2 separate regions of the Homo sapiens genome follow, and region 2 is linked to region 1. The links come from fine-mapping of genetic effects on gene expression. Tissue or cell type: sun-exposed skin. Region 1 holds a variant in brackets; the other region holds the start of a gene. All regions are shown on one strand. Distances are from middle to middle.

The links. PIP is the estimated chance that this variant, and not a neighbour inherited with it, causes the effect. A credible set is the group of variants that fine-mapping cannot tell apart.
Region 2: it holds the start of MYO15B, and the variant in region 1 is the best candidate, but not a certain one, in a credible set for the expression of MYO15B in sun-exposed skin (GTEx, PIP 0.89).

What each region holds. Positions count from the first base shown.
Region 1 is chr17:75,025,723-75,028,562 of GRCh38, reverse strand. No RefSeq gene overlaps it. Among named protein-coding and RNA genes, the nearest start is that of TRR-CCT1-1, 6.8 kb to the left of the region's middle. The variant G/A (reference allele first, on the strand shown) is at 1,576.
Region 2 is chr17:75,586,774-75,589,273 of GRCh38, reverse strand. MYO15B (myosin XVB) reads right to left here and starts at 1,474. Exons shown (of 64, transcript NM_001395058.1): 1 at 1-1,474. The coding sequence starts at 1,216. RefSeq lists silencers at 1-202, 243-372 and enhancers at 1-824, 1,253-1,322, 825-1,658.

The DNA of each region.
Region 1 (2,840 bases):
TTAACATGAGCTGTAGCTTCCCCTGTTTGACATGTGGCCCAAGTAAAATGTGAATAGGTATCTACTGAAACATGAACAAAGGAGAATTTTCTTTTCTTTTCTTTTTTTTTTTTTGAGACAGTCTCGCTCTGTTGCCCAGGCTGGAGTGCAGTGGCACGATCTCTGCTCACTGCAAGCTCCGCCTCCTGGGTTCATGCCATTCTCCTGCCTCAGCCTCCCAAGTAGCTGGGACTACAGGCGCCTGCCACCACGCCCAGCTAATTTTTTGTATTTTTAGTAGAGATGGGGTTTCACCATGTTAGCCAGGATGGTCTCGATCTCCTGACCTTGTGATCCGCCTGCCTCGGCCTCCCAAAGTGCTGGGATTACAGGCGTGAGCCACCGTGCCTGGCCCCGAAAGTACAGTTTTCTAAAAGCAGGAATACGTGTTACATCCATCTGCCAGATGGAATTTGGAGATAAACCTCTAGGGTTAACTCCTGTTCTTTTATGTGGCAGATGCAGGACTTGGCAGGCAGAACAGTGTTGCACAATTTCTTTAGCTTATTTCCATGATAGACCATATCTTCTTCTAAGGCCTGAGGCATTAAGATGGGTTGAAGAATGAAATGTTTGTGCATCAGCAAAGGCTGCAGACACCAATGCATCCGCCCTTTTATTAAGTTTAGTTAAAGGACCAGGGAGGTTAGTACGTGCTCTCATATGAGTGGTATAGAAAGGGGAATGCCTTTATTGCACTGCTTTCTGTAAAGAATGAAATAAAAGATTAAGTTGTTCCATCAGTCACATTTCGAATTAAGGCACATTCAATATTTTGCATGGCTTGCACTACATAGGCTGAATCAGAAACAATGTTTACTGGCTGTTTAAAAGTTTTTAACACTATTATCACAGCCATAAGTTCAGTCCTTTGAGCAGAAAGAAGCAGTCTGTTTGAAAAACTTGCTGTTGAGGTCTTGCAAATGAGGCTTTTCCATTATTAGATCCATCAATAAAAACAGTAATGGCTCCTTCAATAGGGGCTTTTTGAGTAATAGAAGGCAATATCCAGGATGTTAATTTCAGAAACTGGAAGATTTTAGACTTAGGATAATGATTATCAAGAATGCCAACAAAACTGGCCAAATTAACCTGCCATTCTTGGGAATTAATATAGGCTTGTTGAATTTGTTGTTTAGTTAATGGAACTATAATCTGATTTGGATCATATCCCATTAGATTTGTTGTGCGCAGCCTCGCTTGCCCTACTAGCACAGCAATTTGATCTAAGTACAGAGTGAGTGTTTTGGTTGTATTGTGAGGTAGAAAAAGCCATTCAACCAGATCATCTGCTGGTTTTTTTATTATTTATGGCAGGAACAGTAAAAGCAAATTTTTCATAATCTTGGGCAGCTAAAGGAATGGTAAAAAAGCAATCCTTTAGATCTATCACTATGAGAGGCCAGTATTTTGGGATCATTGTTGGGGAGGTCAGCCATGGTTGTAGCGCACCCATGGCTTGAATCACAGCATTAACAGCTTTTAAATCTGTTAACATTCTCCATTTCCCTGATTTTTTCTTAATGACAAATACAG[G/A]ATAATTCTAAGGGGAGAAAGTAGGCTCTATATGTCCCTTTTGCAATTGTTCCTGCACCAGTTCTTTTAAAGCCTCCAGTTTTTCCTGTTTCAGCAGCCATTGCTCCACCCAAACTGGTTTGGCAGTTAGCCACACAAGAATGGGAACTGGAGGCTCAACAATGGCTGCTCCTAAAAATGACACCCCAATCCGGTCCGATCTGTTTGTCCTTCTAAAGGTTCTGATTGGCCATTTTTATTTTTTCCTAGTTCTTTTCCTGGGTGATATCCCACATTTTTCATTATTTGTCTACTATTATTACTATATTGATCCACAGGAATAGATATTTCAGCATCCCATTATTGCAATAAGTCTCTACCCCATAAATTGACAGGAATAGGTATAATGATAGGCTGAATTGTCCCTTCCTGACCATCAGGCCCTTGAGATGGTAAAATCAAAGAACTCTGAAAAACTTCTGAGGCAGCTCCTACTCCAGCAATACCAATGGATGCCTTTTGTTTAGGCCAGTGCAGGGGCCATTGCTTTATAGCAATAATAGAGACATCAGCTCCAGTATCTGCTAGTCCTTCAAAATCTTTTCCCTGAATGGTTACTGTGCAAACAGGTCTTTCGTCAGACACTTGATTAACCCAATATACAGCCTTTCCTGCTGGATTACTATTACCAAAGCCTCCTGTTCTTTTCACTGTGCTGCTGCCTAGTTTTATGTAAGGTAACAGCAACAAATCAGCAATTCTTTCTCCTGGGGAGGCAGACCACAGAGTCAAGGAACTAATAACAAATTGAATTTCTCCAGTATAATCAGAGTCAATTATTCCTGTATGTATAGTAACACCTTTTAATTTTTTTTGTTGAGATGGAGTCTCACTCTGTCACTCAGGCTGGAGTGCAGTGGCACGATCTTGGCTCACTGCAAGCTCCGCCTCCCGGGTTCATGCCATTCTCTTGTCTCAACCTCCCAAGTAGCTGGGATTATAGGCGCCCACCACAACACCTGGCTATTAGTTTTTGTATTTTTTAGTAGAGACGAGGTTTCACCATATTAGCCAGGATGGTCTCAATCTCCTGACCTCATGATCTGCCTGCCTTGGCCTCCCAGAGTGCTGGGATTACAGTCGTGAGCTACCACACCTGGCACACCTTTTAAATTTAGACTAGACCTTCCAAGTAATAGACCGACTGTTCCTGAGGATAAGGGTCTCCTAACTCCCATGGGGACCTTCTTTGGTGGCTCCCCAGGAAGTGTGTCCGGAATTGGTTC
Region 2 (2,500 bases), 560 kb before region 1:
ACCCCTCGCTCGCCCGTGGCCCGGTACCCTGCCCCTCGCCCTCTGGCGGCCGCCGCCGCAGCCGCAGCCGCCGCCGCAGCCAGCGCAGGAGGCCCAGGGCTCGCGCTACACTCAGGAGCCGCTCCTTGAGGCCAGCGCGGCGGGGGCCCACGGCCTGGGAAGCGGCGCCTGGCGGGGGCCTCGCGAGGAGCCTGCGGACCACCAGGAGGGCCGCCAGCGGGGCTGGGTCCTCCGGCCCCGCTCCTGCTGCGGCTCCCGCTTCGCCCTCGCCTGCCGCCGCTGGCACCTGCCCCACCGCCTTTCCGACCTGGTGGCGCGGAGCCCGGGCCGTCGAGGCCTGCATTGTTTCTGGCTCGGCGCCCCGCTGCGCCCGGTTGTCGCTCGCGTCCTTGGCCGGCCCAGTGTCCCGAGGAGCCCGCGAGCTGTCCTCGAAGGTCCTGGAGGCCATAGCTGCCCGAGAGCCCCGTCCAGGTCCGGTCCCCAGCGGACTCGAGTCGGAGTCCCCGCCGGAATGCTCGCTGGCTCCCAGGGGCCCCGTCCCCGACGACCCTTCCCGGCCCCGGGTATCTGCGTGGGGCCAGTCGCTGTCCAGGCCGTCGCTGCTTGGCTCCAGCGCTGACTCCGGCCCGGTTTTTGTCCCTTCCGAGCCCATGTCCGTAGGCTCCGGCGTGGGCCGCAGCTCCCGGGCTGTGCCGCGCTGGCTGCCGCTCTCCTGGGCCTCGCGGGTTTCGCTGTCCGGACAGGAGCTGCCTCCGTCCCCACCCGACGTGTCCCCATTGAGGCTCCTGGGCGTCCGGCGGCCCCGCCGAGCCGAGGGCCCCTTATCTTTCCGCTTCCTCCTACGGCGGCCGCCCAGCTCTTCTCCTCCGGAGAGGCTTCCCTCCTCCAGGCGCCCCCCGCGGCCGCCCCTGGGCCCGCGTCCCTGACGCTGCGCGTTGCTTTGCCTCTCCTGGGCTTTCGGGGACAGCCCAGCCCCTGGGCGTCTGCAGCCGCCGTTCCCCTCTGCAGTGGGCTTCCTGCGGCCACCAGGGGTTCCCTGGCCCCCGGCGGTGGCAGGCTCGGCCGCCGGTTTCGCCCTGTCCGCCTGCCCGCGGTCGGAACGGCGTTCCCGGCTGGGCGCGCCATCCGCGCTGGCCGACCCCGACTCCTGCTCCCCTGAGGCCGGCCTCCCGGGCCTCTCCAGGCGCTGGGGCGCTTTGCGCTGGTTCCTGCCCATGGCTGGCCCAAAGGAGACGGGCTTCCCGACGCCCAGGTCCTTTCCCCTCCCCGGGGATTTGGCCTCCCGCGGTGACCTTCTGTGCAGTGCACCACCCGGCTCTGCTCTCGCAGGGGCTACAGGCTCTACTCCCCGAGGTGCCCGCCTTACAGGACCATCAATAATGCAGAAGGCGGCGGGTCCTGACCCCCTCGGCCAACAATGGAATAGAGGCGCCCAGGAAACAGGAGACGCTACAGCTGCGGACAGGGCAACAGTGCCGCCGGGAGGCGCTGCCAGCCAGGCCAGCCTCGCACCGCGCCAGACTGAGGGGGTCCATGCTCCACTCCCACCTCAGTGCTTGCCCAGCAAGGAAGGGCCCAGAGAACCTGTCTGGACTTCTTCCTTCTGAGGGTTCCAAGGGACTGGGGCCAGGCCCACCCTGGCACACGGCAGCACTCCATGAGTCGCTAGGGTTTTTGTTCTTTTCAATTGTGGAATAAATACAATTTACCGAAAAGTACATAAAACATAAATGTACATCTTGAACTGGTGTAAAACATGCCTGTCTACCTCCTTGGAGTTGTGGAACAGAACCACACCCCATACATTCCTGATTGCCCCAATGTGTGTGTTTTTAAAATATCTATTTTTAAAACAGGTAATACATTCACATAATTCAAACATCCAAACATTACAAGATAAAAGTCTCCCATTCCTGACCCTCAGCCTATGTACTCAGTGTTCCCCTGAGGTTACCCATTTCTGTATTTCCTTGCAAAATTTTCCAGGTTGGCCGGGCGCGGTGGCTCACGCCTGTAATCCCAGCACTCTGGGAGGCCAAGGAGGGCGGATCACGAGGTCAGGAGATGGAGACCATCCTGGCTAACATGGTGAAACCCCCGTCTCTACTAAAAAATACGATAAATTAGCCGGTCGTGGTGGGGGGCGCCTGTAGTCCCAGCTACTCGGGAGGCTGAGGCAAGAGAATGGCATGAACCCAGGAGGCAGGAGAGAATGGCATGAACCCAGGAGGCAGAGCTTGCAGTGAGCTGAGATCACACCACTGCACTCCAGCCTGGGTGACAGCATTTTGTTTGTCTCAAAAACAAAGAAACAACAACAAAAACTTTCCATGCAGAGAAAAGCAAATATTATATTTTTCCCCTTTAGCACAAGTGGTAGCTTATGTAGCTCCGGGGTCTCCACTTTGCCTTTTTCACTTAACAATGTAATCTGGTGATTTCATAATAATACCATAAAAAGCCAGCCTGCCTTCCTCCCTTCTCTCCTCCCTCTCTTCCT